Linked DNA regions of Homo sapiens. The protein of the gene in region 2 interacts with the protein of the main gene of each other region in a pairwise test. Each region holds a gene or a part of one and is shown on either strand. Other genes may lie near its edges.

Region 1 (7,179 bases), on a different chromosome or scaffold from region 2:
CAGCCTCTGAACATCGCATCCAAGAAAAATAAGGCAAATTCCAAAACACAAAAGCAAAAAATACAAAACTTGTTTAAATATTTCGTTGCACTCACTAAGCACAAAAGTTCATATTTTGGGGGGACTGTAGAGAGCTTTAAAGTATACAGAGGGACTTACGACATGACATCTCTTAAGGGAACCCGTTCTCTTTTGACCTCATTAGCATGACGTGTCCTGCACTATGCTGAGGAAGAATGTGCAGAGAGAGCTCCAAGTCTCTCCACAGAACTCCAGGGCAGTCTTCCTCTGGTTTGCCATATCTGGGTCCTCCACACACTCGGGAGCTTTGGTGGCCATGGTCTGGGTCACTGCTAGGCTAGAGGGGGTGGTCTCTTTGCCTTTGATGTGCTCCCTGGGGGACATCTCTGTTTTCTCCTTCCTGGGCTTTGTGTTCCCAAATAGAGTGGAGCTGACTAGCTTAAGACTGGATTCTGGAAAATCCTTTCTGCACACTCTGGTTTTCACAGCTGTCTTGGAATATCTACAGATGTCTTTCTGTGAGCGCAGATTCCGGGCAACTTGTTTCCAATAGACTCTCTCATCCTTGAGCTTTAGGCATGAGGTTGGATTGCCAGCAAAGACACAGGAAAATTCATGGTCCAATTGAGTGCACTCAACCTTGAGAGAGATGCCCTCCTCCTGCTCAGTAGCAGCCCATCTGCAGTTGGCTTGGTCTTTGGTGACAAACTTGCCTTTGTTCCCGGGCCTGCTTTTCTGCTTAATCTGGGTGTTGCCCAGAGTGTCCTTTTGTTCTGAGACCACTTTGCTGTGAAGTCCATTCTTCACTTTTTTTTTCCCCTCCACCAGGAGCACCTGAGCAGCCAGTAGGAGGAAGGAGAGCAGGGTGAGGCTACAGATCTTCATGGCTGCAGCTGGGCGTTCACCTGTTTGACAAAAGGCAAGTGAGTCAGTGGCAGGCAGCAGTTCAGCTGTGCAGGACTACACGCTGGCCTCCCCCTACCCTGACAGGTGCCTACATGATTTCAGAGTAGACCAAGAACGCTTCTGGCTCCTGGAGTCACTAGACAAACAGCCTGTCTACTCACATTTCCACTTGACTTGAGTCTTGAGTGTCACAAAAGTACCACTCTTTGGAGCCTCACGAACTCTCATTTATCATTTATTCACTCATTAACTCCTGCATCTGCTCACTCCTCACTCTTTCATTCACTCATTCAACAAGCATTTACTGAGCACCTACTATATGCCCCCCACCAGACTAGGTGTTGAAGAAATCACCATGATTGAGAAAGCCTCAGATTTGAAAGAGCTTAGAGACCACTCTTTGGGAGAATTTAAATAGCATTGATCAGGGAATCTATCCCGTCATCTCTGTTTCTGATATGAAACAAGTTACTGCTCCAAACTTTCAGCTCCAAAGGGCTGGATTTCTATCTCATGACTCCATATGGACACAGATGCCCAAAATGAGAAAAGACATGACAGATGCCCAAAATGAGAAAGGATGTGGTAAGCATCATGAAAGGTGATGTTGACCCAGAGTTGAACATGCCTGGGGTTTGGGTGGGGTGGGTGGGGTTGTGGGGGTGGGGGAGCTTTTTGTGGGGAAGTAAGAGTTTAAGGAAAGGTGTGAGGTGGGGTGGTTGTCTGATTTGCCTGGGCAAAGTGAATCAGGGTGGAGAGAGGTGAATTTCAACCAGATAGTTCACACTACAAGATCGAAGACAAGGATCATGAGAAATCATTGAATCAATAGGATGAACACCAACGTCACACTGAACTGCATGAATCTGATCATGTGTACAATAAAAACCCATGCTTAACAGAAGAAGAGAAGTCAGTTTCTATATGACACCTCCTGTGTGCTAAGTACTGGTCTAGGGTTTGATTCCCACCTTGTGAAATCCACACAAGAGCTCTTCCAGGTAGCTATTAATATGTCATCCCAGGTGACAGCTCTGACTCTTAAGGCTCAGACAGGTAAGTAAATTGCTCAGGATCTCATAGTGGGCAAGTTCAAAGCTGGTATGGGTAGCCAGATCAATCTCCTTATTCCTTTCTGTCACCCCTGGTTGATCACTTTTTGCTTTTCACATTTACTCTGCCCTTTAAAAACATTGCCAAAGAATAAGAAAAACAACTATGAACAATGACAATTTAGTTTCATATAACACATAATGATAAGATGATTTGTATTATTTGTGCTCCATTTAAAACAAAACACAGAATTTTTTATAAAAAGAGGCAGACCCAGGAAATGGTCCTGATCTGATTTCTACCCTAGAAGTTGGCCATCTTCTAGGGTTAAGAAGGAGAAAGACAATCACAAAAGGGCAGAGAACAGCAATAAATGGTGAAGAGGAGACTGGATATGCCAGAAAAACACCCAGTCATTTCTCACGGCCCTGGGGCTCAGCCCCCACCTGCCCATGATGGAATGCAGGCCCAAGGAACTCCAGGCCCTTGGTGGAGTGAGAAGTGGCAGCAGGTAATAAAGCTGTTAAAGGAGCGAGGCTCTTACCTTGTTCTGAGCACACGGATCCAGTGCAATCCCAGGCAGTGCGAGTGAATTGCAGGCTGCAGCTGTGTCAGGTAGAGTGCAAGGGGGGTAGACTATTCAACAGGAGCCAGGCTGACTGGGTTTTTATAACACTCACTGGGTTTTTACAACACTGTGGCACGTTACTCACAGCTCCTCCCAGCCACGCCCCTCCGAGGGAGCCGGTTCCTGCAGGGAAAGTGCTGGATGTAATCCAGTGAAAAGGGGGGTTACCTGCATGCCATCAAACGCTTCCTCTAGGCCCTTCCCTGTCCACCCTGTGGCCAGGATAGGAGGACAACTCAGCCTCACAGTGACCCTCCTTGATGGGGAGAGGACCCCAGCAGTGATGTCTATGGAGGAGTAAAATAACTATAATGACATGATCCGAGCTGCCAAACTACTGAGCCCATTTTACCTGAGTTCTCCTTTTCCCTCATCACATCCGCTCTAGTAGGGAGTGCAATGATTCCTCCCCTTTTACAAAAGCAGGAATTGGTTCTGGAGATATGTAAGAGCTTGTCCAAGTTCACAGAGGCAGGAAAAGGAACATCTCAAAATTAAAAGTGAGATTCTCTACATCCATGGTCTGATCTCTTCCTGCCTGCCACTCTCAATAAATCTTTGTTGAATGGGTGACTGAAGTTGCCGAAGTTTTCGTAGTGTCTGAGTTCCTTTTTCCATCTGAAGTTACTACATAAGCAGAGGATACCCTAATTCTAGAGGCAGGGAAATTTACATTAAAAATTCCCTCTTTTTTATCAGGGAATTCTACCAGGCTCTGAGAGGCTGGTAAAGAGGGAATTTTTAATATAAGATTACTGTTGTAAATACTTACCTTCAGGTCTCATTCAGAGAGCTCAGGCTGCCCTGCCTGCTACAGGCACAGTCCCACACCAGAATGACCCAGGTGGAATCCTGGCCACAGCATGTGTTTAGCTGAGTGCTATGCCCAAACCACTTAGCCTCTCCCATCATCCATTTGCAGTGTGCTGACAATAACAACGTCTCCTTTATAGCTGCATACTAAATTTTTACTGGGCTAAGCTGTTAACATAAAGTGGAGCAGAATCGTTTTGCCTCATGACAGGGTCTTAAGTTGTATACTTTGAAAACAGACATTTGTTATTTACATATGCAGCATTTAAAAAGAAACTCACTTCTACAGGGAAGATGTGGCCCTCATTATATATTATCACCTCACCTTTCATAGATTTTCAGAAGAAGAAATTGTTCACTTTTCCTTAATTCAGCCATAAGAAAACTATTGTTTAGTGTGATATTAAATGGCAACTGACTTTTGGGTTTGAGATAAGGCAATAGGGAGTGATGGGGACTGTGGCAAACTAGAGAGTCTCTGCCTCCATAGAGGTCAACACTCATCTCCAATTGACTGAGAAAATGCAGGGATTAGGCTCAGTATTGTCACACTGTCTGATTTTTAAAATGACATCCCCAAATCCAGATGTGTTTATATGAAATTGGTTGGCAGCTAATTAAAATTTTCTAAAAATAAAGCTGTAGCTCAACACTATGCAGGCCAAAACTTGTAACTGTGTTTGGATTTTATGAACGATCCACCTGTTTGAGAATTCCGTGGTCATAGCTATAGATGTTGACCAATTTACTCAGAGGCTCAGTCTCTGCATGAATCTGTTGGAAGAAGCCATTTCTGAAGCTGTGTGCCTCTCTCCTAAAATTGCCTCACCCAGGGGTCCGTCCTCACTATCCTCACAAACACCCCGCTGAGGCCCTGACCTCCACGAACAGGCTCTCTCATGCGGTATTTTGGAGGATTATTTGGACATAGGCAAGGCAAAGCTGCTTTGCTCAACAAGGGGAGTCTCCTACAAAATGGAAAATTCTACTTGATCCTTGGGAGGCAGGCAGATTCTTTCTGGAGGCAGATTGCAGTTGGAACACAAAACATATTTACAAGGAAACATGTGGACTCCGGGGTCTTTCTGGGAAGTGCTTCTCTGAGCTTTGCCAGGTAACACTGCACATTCCCCACTGGCTCCTTGTGGCCCTTCCCCTTCCTGTGACTCCCATCCCAGCGTCTGCTTTGCTCTTTCCCTTCTAGACTCAGCAGCACAGCATCAGAGCAGGCTGTGGGGCAGTCACCTCCTTGGCTCATCCTGCCCTTCCAACCTCATTTCCAGGTACTCACACGCAGACACATAAATACACATACACACTGACACACATACAAAGACACACACAAACACACACTGACACACTCAAACACACACAAACACACTCAAAGACACCACACTCATAGACACACAGAGACACACACATACTGACACCTAGACACATTCACACACATACTCATAGGCACACACACACAGAATCACACACAGTGACACTGACACACACACAGAGACAGACACACACACACATGCACACACACACTGCAATCTGGCCACACTGAAACCCTGTCCCACCATTTGCAGATACTCCATGCATGCGCCCACTTCCTGCCTTTGCCTCTGCTGTTCCCTGCACTTGGGATCCCCTTCCCTTCCTTCTCTGCCTGGCACACACCGCCTCATCCTTCAAGGCCAGGCTCCAATGCGAGCCCCTCTCTGTTGGTGTCATTGGCTCCTGACGCCCTGCATGCCACCCACATCTTTAAGAATGTCCACGGGGAGAAATGGCACACTTCCTCCAATGAGCTTACAGCGTGCCAGGCACTGTGCTAAGGCTGTTTCCCAAGCTTTCTTCGTATCTCCATGAACTAAGGAAACGATGTCCTTTTCCAGTGGCTCTGGGGAGACTGCAGAGGACATGGAGCCCCAGCCACGCAGTGCATAGCAGGTTCCAGTAACTTCAGGCCCCTCCACCTCCCCATGCTCCCAGCACTGAGGGGCTCTGTAATTCTTGGGGATGAGTACATAAAGGCCCATTGCACAAGAACCCCAGGAGGAAAGTCGGCCCAGGTCCTCATGGGACAGATGTGGAGGCAAGGCTTAGGGGGACTAAGCACAGTGTCTGACACACAATTAGAGAAGAATTATCTGGAGGCCGCTGCTATCATTCTAAACACAAATGAGGCAGTGTACGCATACACTGATAAATTGTGGAATTCTCCTCTCTTTGCCCCTTCATACCTTCCCTTTAAATTTTTTTTTAAAGTTTTAGAATAATTTTAGGTTTACAGAGAATTGCAAAGATAGTTATCATTCCAATTCTCACCTGGGTTCCCTATTTACCTGTTACATTACTATGGTACGTTTGTCACAACTGACAAACATTGATACATTATTGTCAATTGAAGTCCATACTTTATTCAGACTTGCTTAGGATTTACCTGTTGTTCTAGTTTTTATTATTATTATTATTATTATTGACAGACTTTATTTTTTAGAGTAGTTTTATGCTCATAGCACAATTGAGTGGAAAGTATCAAAAGTCCCATATACCCCTCCCCACACGCAGGCACAGTCTCCCCTACCTTCAACATCATGAACCAGGGTAGTACATTTGCTGTAAGTAATAAACCTACATTAACATGTCATTATCACCCAATGTCCATCATTTCCATTAGGTTCACTCTAAGTGCTGTACATTCTTTGGGTTTTGAGAAATGTATAATGACATGCATAATATCAATTAACTAAGAAAGGTATAATGACGGTACCCACCACTATGGTATCATACAGAATAGTTTAGCTGCCCTAAAAATTCTCTGTGTTCTGCCTACTTACCACTCCATCCCCTACAACCCCAGGCAATGCTCATCCTTTTGCTGTCTCCTCAGTTTTATCTTTTTAAGAATTTCAAATAGTTGGAATCACACAATATGTAACCTTTTATATTGACTTTTTTACCTAGTAATATGCACTTAAGGTTTCTCTATGTTTTTCATAACTTGATAGCACATTTCTCTTAAGTGCTGATAAAATTCCAAAGATTGGATATATCCAAGTCCCTTTATTCATTCACCTACTACTAAAATTCCATTGATTGGATGTACCCGAGTTCATTTGTTCATTCATCTAGGACATTTTGGATGCCTCTAAATTTTGACAGTGATGAATAGAGCTGCTATAAACATGCATGTGCAGGTTTGGTGTAGAATTAAATTTTCAGCTCCTAATGTTCTTTTTCTGTCCAGGATCCCAACATGACACCAGGTTGCATTTAGTGATCGTGACTTTTTGGGTTCTTCTTGGCTATGGCTGTTTCTCAGATGTTGCTTGTTTTTGATGACTATGGCAGTTTGCAGAAGAATTGGTTAGGTGTTTTGAGAATGTCCTTAATTTGGAAATTGTCTGGCATGTTCTGGTTAGATTGGGATCATGTTATTCTTCTCATGATCACACAAAACTTAAATGATGAATACTTTCTTTGGGATTGTGAAAGGAAGTCTGAACACAATTGGTAAAAACACACTGGCTAAGGCTGGTAATTGAATGCATGTCTGGTCACCAGCTGGGGATTTGAAGTTCAAAAGCTGATTTTACTCTCATGCCTGTTACTACCACATAGCTTCTTGACCTAGAGGCCTGGCCCTACTTATGCAGTCACCAGAGATTATTCATATAATGGGTGCAATTTGGTTCTGAGGTAAGTCTTAACTGTGCCAAACTTATTGCCAGGCCAAAGTTGTCAAAAATCAACCCTTCCTTCAA
Region 2 (7,929 bases):
CAGGCAAAGAGGGTCCAAGGTGTGCTGGGAGCCTGGGCTAGGAATTGATCTCATTTTTGACTTGCAACAAACTCCTCAACCCCATTGTACAGATTTGGAAACTAAGGCTCAGAGAGAGGAACTCGCCCCAGATCACACAGCCAGAAACCGCAGCCCAGAGACTCATACTTGGGTCTGTAAGACTTCAGAGACAGGCCAGGCATGATGGCTTATGCCTGTCATCCCAACACTTTAGGAGACCGAGGCGAGAGGATCGCTTGAGGCCAGGAGTTTGAGACCAGCCTGGGCAACAAAGTGTGATGCCCTCTTTTTTTTTTTTTGAGACAGAGTCTTGCTCTGTCGCCCAGGCTGGAGTGCAGTGGCGCGATCTCGGCTCACTGCAAGCTCCGCCTCCCGGGTTAACGCCATTCTCCTGCCTCAGCCTCCGGAGTAGCTGGGACTACAGGTACGTGCCACCATGCCTGGCTAACTTTTTGCATTTTTAGTAGAGACAGGGTTTCACTATGCTGGCCAGGCTGATCTTGAACTCCTGACCTCATGATCCGCTCGCCTCGGCCTCCCAAAGTCCTGGGATTACTGGCGTGTGCCACCGCGCCTGGCCCCGAAAAACTTTTTATTGTTTGTTTGTTTTGAGGCGGAGTCTCACTCTGTCACCCAGGCTGGAGTGCAATGGTGTGGTCTCAGCTCACTGCAACCTCCGCCTCCTGGGTTCAAGCGATTCTCCTGCCTCAGCCTCCCGAGTAGTTGGGATTACAAGCATGCGCCACCACACCCGTCTAATTTTTGTATTTTCAGTACAGATGGGGTTTCACTATGTTGGCCAGGCTGGTCTCAAACTCCTGACCTCGTGATCCGCCCACCGTGGCCTCCCAAAGTGCTGGGATTACAGGCATGAGCCACCGCGCCTGGCCTGAAAAACTTTTTAAAAAGAATTTTATAAAGAGACTTCAGGGGCCAAGCTCTTTCCAGCCCACCACCAGCAGCCTGGGGTGGGACAGCGACCCTCCATGTGTTGCTGAGAAGGCTCTCTAATCCCACAGGATTGGAGCTGCCTGTTTATTTGTCTAAATTACCGCCCACCAGCCTGTGAGTGCTGGGAAGGCACAGACAGGGCCTGTCCTTGCTGGTCCAACCCACCCCAGCCCCTAGCACCACACGAGGTTCACTGGTTCACTGGCACACAGTAGGTGCATGGCAAATATCTGCCCAAAGAATGAACCTCTGTACTCCCAGTGACTGCCATGGAATGTCGCTCAGTGATGATCTGTTGAATGAACAAGTGAATGAGATGATCTGCCACGGTCCAGGAATGTCTGTGGAAATTCCTCATGCACACAGCAAACAACTCCACCCACCGCCATCCTACCGCACCCGGGCATGGAGGAGCCCCTCATCGGGGGCAGAGCTGGGGGAAGGTCAGGAAAGACTGTTGGGCCTCGGAAAACATCCCACGTGCTAGGTTGGTGCGTTGGGAAAAGTAAAAGTCAGTGCCAGGAGTGCAAGTTCAGGTCAAGACTAGGGAGCTACTGGATGGCCCTGCTGAATATTTTGGGGTGAGAGGCTGAAACAGGAGGACGACAGAGGAGGCTGCCCAGAGTGGGGATGGGGGAGGAGAAGTGCTGGGTGGGTGGGGCAAGAGCAGTGAGGAGCCAGGTCTGGGTGGGGGCTTGACGAGTGACTCAGGAGGGTAGAGGTGCGATGAAGCCAGGAAGGTGAGGCCAGGCAGGCAGTTCCTGGGTAAACACCAGCCTGGTTAGAAAAGTCCCTCTCTTGGCTCAGAGAACAGGGAGGCAGGTATGGGGACTGCCTAGGAGCACCTCGGAGAGAGTGGGGGTGGCTCTGTGGCTCCCCACGGTAGGCTCGGCTCCCCAGATGTGCCCCCACCCACATCTGCCACTAGCTCCCTGCCCACCGACCCCACCCAGTCCTCCTCAAGTTCACTCAGGTCCTCAGGGCCTCTGCTGGCCAAGTGCCTTCTAAGCCTCGGGATTCCTGACCGTAGAATTCCCTTTTCCTCCACCTAAGCTCAGAGTAGGGGACTAGACTGCAAGGGCAGGCCTCTCCCTGCCTCTTGGAGACCTGGGAAGAGGAAAGCTGGGGAACTCGGGTCCCCCAAGGGTGCACTGCATCCCCGCACCACGCACTTTGCAGCTCATTCCACGCAGTCCAGCAACGCCCTGCAGCTATGCATTTTGAGGCCGTGCATTTTGAGTTCCCTTGACCCACGTGGGGCTGGCCTCAGAGAGGTTAACTAGCGTGCCCCAGGTCACACAGTTACTCAGTGAAAGGCAGGGATTGATTCAACTCTTCGGCTGTATGACTCCAAGGCCCGTGGGTGTTCCACACAAGCTTCAGTTCTGTCCCAAAAGTTTTGCTTGTGCCTACCTGGGTCCAAGCTCCCCAAGGTGATAGACGGTGTGGTAAAGTTTCAGCGAGACTCATAGGGTCCCCATCACCACTGAGTGGCCGTTCTGCCAAGCTGGCGCAGAAGGGTTCCCTCGTCCTGCCAAGTTCCCACCCTGCTCAAAGTTTCCCCTCCTGGTCCCCAGGAATGGTAGGCCGGACCATGCCCAGCGAGACTCCAGCACTCGGCAACGTGGCCGAGAGACCCACGGGCTCCCACACGGGCCAGCCCCGCCCCCAGCCCCACGAAGGGTCCTGACTGGTGGCCCCCCTGGATTAGCCCCATGCCGCAGGGTGGCGCCGGCCCGGGGTCCCCGGCGGGCGCCGCCGTCCCGGGCCAGAGTCCCCGCCGCGCAGCCTTGGGCGCCCCAGCCAAGTTGGCGGGAGGCGGCGAGCGGGACCGGGGCGCCCCTAGCCCCTCCGCCCCCGCCCCCCGCCCCTCTGCCCCGCACACTCACCGCCAGCAGCCGCCCGTGCAGCAGCAGCGCCAGCAGCAGCGCGCCCGCCGCCCGCCACCCCATGGCCCGGCCCGCGCCGCTCTCTCGCTCGCTCGCTCCGCGCCGCCCGCTCCGCGCCGCCCGCAGCCGCCCGCTCGCCGGCCAGCTCGGGACAGCGCGGCCCTCTCCCCACCGCCCCCTTTCCTCCCCGCCCGCCCCGCCCCCGCAGCGCCGGCCCCGCCCCCGAACCGCCCCTCCCCGGAGCGCCAGGCCCCGCCCACGGACCGCCCCCGGGCCGCGGGCTCTGCTCGCCCCAGCCGGCCGCGCAGCCTACTAGGCCTTTGTCTGGGCCCCCAGCCCCCTCCGCGCGGGCCGCGGCCCGGCCCGGCTCCCCGCCAAACCCGGCCTGGAGTATGGGATGGGACGGGGCGGGGGACCGGGGGCCCGGGCCCGGGCATGGGATGGGGCCGCCGGGCCAGGCGCTCTCGCCTCCCCGATCCCCGGCTCCCCCGCTTCCCCGCGCGCGCCGCCGACTTCCACGCCCCTGCACGCCCCGCACGGCCGACTCCACTCGCGCAGCTTTTGAAGATCCCGGGATCTCCTTCCCACGCTCACACGCACGCAGCTGCCGCTCCGCGCCACACGTGCACGCCAACTTCCACACCCAAGAACACCTTCACACCATAACTTTACTGCACGAACACACTTGTGCGCTACCCGGGAACACTTTCACACTCTGGACCCAACTCTGAAGTACCAACAATCCTCACCGGCTCACATGCACACTTAACTCGCTTCCAAACTCTCACCTCCACCAGGGACACAGGAGACAGCCCTCACACCACACTCAGCCCCTCACTCACGCATACATCCCAACAAGTCACGGAGCGGGAGGACGCCTTTTCACATAGATTCCTCGCAGGCACGCACATTTCACACACAGGCCCACATCATTGCCTACATGCTTACCAGCTTGTTTTTTTTTTTTTTTTTTTTTTTGAGAAGGAGTCTCGCTCTGTCCCCAGGCTGGAGTGCGGTGGTGGGATCTTGGCTCACTGCAACCTCCGCCTCCGGGTTCAAGCAATTCTCCGGCCTCAGCCTCCTGAATAGCTGGGATTACAGGCGTGCCACCACGCCTGGCTAATTTTTGTATTTTTAATAGAGATGGGGTTTTTACCATGTTGGCCAGGCTGGTCTCGAACTCCTGACCTTGTGATCTGCCCGCCTTGCCCTCCCAAAGTGATGGGATTACAGGCATTGAGCCACCGCACCCAGCCTCAGCCTGTATCTTTTACCTGTTCTCACCCACTAATCACAGTGCCTCATAGTGGGCACTGGGTACTGAACTGAGCTGCCCACCCCACCTGCACCATTTTCCATGTAAATCACTCACACACCAACTTTGAGTCACATAAATCACAGCCCCAGAGCCAGAACCACACCAACTCACACACTCAGGCCCAGACAGACAGACCCTGCCAAAGCCCCATCACAGATGCTCGGGTGGGTGGTAAAATCACAGCCCCATGATCTGTCTCTGACCCAACCGCAGGCAGCAAACAGCACCAAGCCCCCAGACCTATTCACTGCCTACTCTTCAGCTCCCCTCTTCTGCCTGAAATTTCCAGGGCAGCCCGAGGCTGATGGGTGGAGAGGAAAACTATGTGTGTGTAGCTTTGAGGAAAACCTTTTGAGTAATGATAGAGGAGGAGAATAAAACTGAAGTTTCCATTGTTTCCTGTGAGAGTTGCTAGGTTCCAGAAACTCATGGCTGGGTTTGCAGCCAGGAGTGAGGTGAGCTGTGGACAGAAGGAAATGCCCAGCTCACTGGGCGGCACCAGGCCTGGCTCCGGAAGCTATGTTCCCTGTGATAGGGGTCCGCAGGCTCCCAAGCACATTGGGGCCTCTCATCCAGGCATCTGGGGGATTGAAAAAACACTGGCATCCTGACCCCCATCCCAGATAGATCCCCTATCTCCAAAAGATATCTCCAAAATATGCCCTGTGGGGCATATTTCTGTGGGACCAGCTCAGAGTTGTAAAGAACAGAAATTGCATCCACGGTAGTCAGGCCAACTGCCTGGCCCCAACCCAGGCTCCAGGCACAGCACTGAATAAGGTCTATCTCTGATCCGCACAGGGAGATAGGGGTGGACAGAGGAGGGACGCCCAATCTTGGCCCTCAGTAAACTCTTAATCTGATAGAGGTGTGGGGAAGAATAGTCCCTGTCCGGGTATTGTTCTCAGTCTGATAGAGAATCCTGCCTCCACCACCTAGCCGTGCAATCTTGAGCACATGATTCAACTTCCATGTCTCAGTCTCTGCATGTAGAAAATGAGAATAACGTTAAGACGTCTCTCTTAGTGTTGTTATGAGAATTAAGATAAATTAATATATTTCTTTTAAAAAACACAGCCATTTCAGACACTTGGTAAGCATGAAATAAGTGGTAGCCATTTCTCTTATTACTATTTCTGGTGTGCTCCCAATCTAAAGAGAGAGACATGACTTGGCCCTTGGGGAGCTGAGGTCTGATAGAGGAGCAGCCTCCACAGCCACCCCAGGGACCTCCCATTTGAGGGGAGAGTACACCAGGTTTGCACTTGGAAACTCCCTGTCCGATGAGAAAGGCTTCAAAACTCCACTGACTTCAGAGCTGGCAGGTGGCCAGCCCTAGTGGCAGGATTTTTCCAAGGCCTTGCCTGTCCATGGATTTGTCAGCATCCGTGACAAATCGCATTTCATGAGCTGCCTCAGTGTCTGTTCCCTACCTCGGGCCCTTTAAGTACCAGAGCTTTGGCTTCTTGGATGATTTGCTCATGAGCAAAGGGGGAAAAAAAGGGAAACAAGCAACCCTTTGTAGATGTTTGGTCAAGACTAACCCAGAGCTATAAGTCTTCCTTCCTCAAAGGGGTTGAGGAAAGAGATGGTAAGGCCGACTAGGGACTGGAAGGAGCTGGGCTGACACGCAGAAAGCAGGAATATATGGCATGTTGAGAAAGTCTTCCAGGGCGGCTCCAGCAGCGGAGGATTGGTCATCCACCTATTTATTCTGTGTCCTCTCCTTCCCACTAAGGGATTTGCCTGGGTCTGTTTTAGTTTGCAGTCCTTGATATCTTTAGCAAATGCTCTCAAGTTGCTTTGTCTAGAGCCTGGCTATCTCCTCATATGGCTAAGAAGAGGAGCAGGCACAAGGCCTTCTGGGCTTGGCAAAACCTTGGAGGCGCCCATAATCTCACTGTATGTACACAGAGTTCAGGGTGCTGGTCACACTCGAGGAGAGAAACAACTCAAGTCTCATACAAGGTTCCCTGGGCACGGAGAGACTACAACAGCTTGGATAGGCAGAAATAGTCAAACAGCTTGACTTCTGAGAATAGGTGTTGGGGGTTCTGGAACCAGCAGCTGGAGTTTGTGGCTTACCTGTCCACTCCTCCAAATTCAGTAGGACTCATCTTCTGGCTTCCACTCCCATTCCAAATCTTTTCTCTGCCTGAGAGCTTATCATTCATCTTAATCACATTCCTTTGTCCATTCATTCATTCATTCAGGGCTGCAGTGGACAGTTGCGCAGGTTGTTCACTGAACAAAGGTGTGCAGCCAAGTGGGTAAATAGGAACTGTAATGGGCCCTGTTGTGGGGCTACATCTGCCCAGAATGGGTACTTTTTTTTTTCTTTTTGAGACAGAATCTTGCTCTGTTGCCCAGGTTGGAGTGCAGTGGCACGATCTCAACTCACTGCAACCTCTGCCTCCTGGGTTCAAGCGATTCTCCTGCCTCAGCCTCCCAAGTAGCTGGGATTACAGGCACATGCCACCACACCTGGCTAATTTTTTGTATTTTTAGTAGAGACAGGGTTTCATCATGTTGGCCAGGCTGGTCTCGAACTCCTGACCTCAAGTGATCCACCCGTCTCGGCCTCCCAAAGTGCTGGGATTACAGGCGTGAGCCACTGCACCCGGCCCAGAATGGGTACTTTTTGCTGATATGAGTGAAGGCACTGTAAGGCTAGCTGTGGCCCTATATTCATTCAATAGTGAAACTAAACACTGCCCACGAGAGTTTCTATGTCCATGTGGGAAAACAAATGCTAATAGAGTAACAATATGTCCTTGGGTGAAAATGAAGAGTCAGAAATTGGTGTGAAAGAGAATTGAGATGGAGGAGAAAAAACAAGAAGATAGTACTGAAGAAGAGGAGGAAGAGGAGGCAGGAGGTGGGTCTAAGCAGGCAGCAAAAGTTCCCATGGAGAGGGCGGGGACCCCACAAGGCCTGGCATGATCTAGTCCTGCCCATCAATCCAGCCACAGCCCTTCCCCACCATAGTCTTTGCAGATGCTGTTCCCTCTCCTAAGTGCTTTTCCCAGTTAACACCCATCCCCCTTCACTCTACTCTCCCTTAAGATTGAGTCCAAACATCACATGACCACAGAAATCTTCTCTGACCTCCCAAGCGAGGTCGTGTTCCCCACCACACTTTCCCACAGCGCCCCCCCCGCCATGCTTTTCTTGTAGCATTTTTGACCATTGTAATTATTTGGAAGATCATTTAATATTATGAGGCATAATGAAGGCAGAGGGCATGAAGGTCTTGTTTCTGTCTTGGTCCCAATTATATCCCCTGTGAAGAGCACAGTGTGTGGCACAGAGTTGGCATTTGGATAATTGTTACTTAAATGAAAGAACAAGACATTAGTTCAAACGTGGCACACAGTGTAAATGTCCCTGTTCTGGTTTGTGCTTGGAACAAAGATAAACCCTGGGGAGCAGGCAAGGCAGTACATTTTATTATTCCCCTCCCTTTCCAGCTGGGAAAACTGAGGCCCAGGGGATGAAGTGGCTTGCCCAGGTCATGCAGTCAGTAAGAGGTAGAACCAGGATTCATGTCCATGTCGGTCTGATTCTACAAACTCCCATTCTCAACCACACCCATTCTGCCTCCCTGTGGGCTGTTCTCAACTCTGGCCAGGCACAAGTGCGCTTCTCCCAGCTCAGGCAGAAGCGTGAATCTTCTGAAAGCTCTTGTATTTGACCCCCTGCCCCAACTTGATGTTTCCCCACTACCCTTCATCATTATCAATTGCTTTC

Evidence for each region. The genes of interacting proteins can lie anywhere in the genome.
Region 1: the proteins of HSPG2 (region 2) and FGFBP1 interact in a two-hybrid assay, tested with the Homo sapiens proteins (one study listed by BioGRID).

What each region holds. Positions count from the first base shown.
Region 1 is NC_000004.12:15,935,727-15,942,905, forward strand, and holds the start of FGFBP1 (fibroblast growth factor-binding protein 1 precursor), read right to left. Parts: upstream 3,015-7,179; 5' UTR 2,961-3,014; intron 2,746-2,960; 5' UTR 2,525-2,745; intron 927-2,524; 5' UTR 907-926; coding exon 202-906; 3' UTR 1-201.
Region 2 is NC_000001.11:21,934,294-21,942,222, forward strand, and holds the start of HSPG2 (basement membrane-specific heparan sulfate proteoglycan core protein isoform b precursor), read right to left. Parts: upstream 3,018-7,929; 5' UTR 2,925-3,017; coding exon 2,862-2,924; intron 1-2,861. UniProt on the Homo sapiens protein: Integral component of basement membranes. Component of the glomerular basement membrane (GBM), responsible for the fixed negative electrostatic membrane charge, and which provides a barrier which is both size- and charge-selective.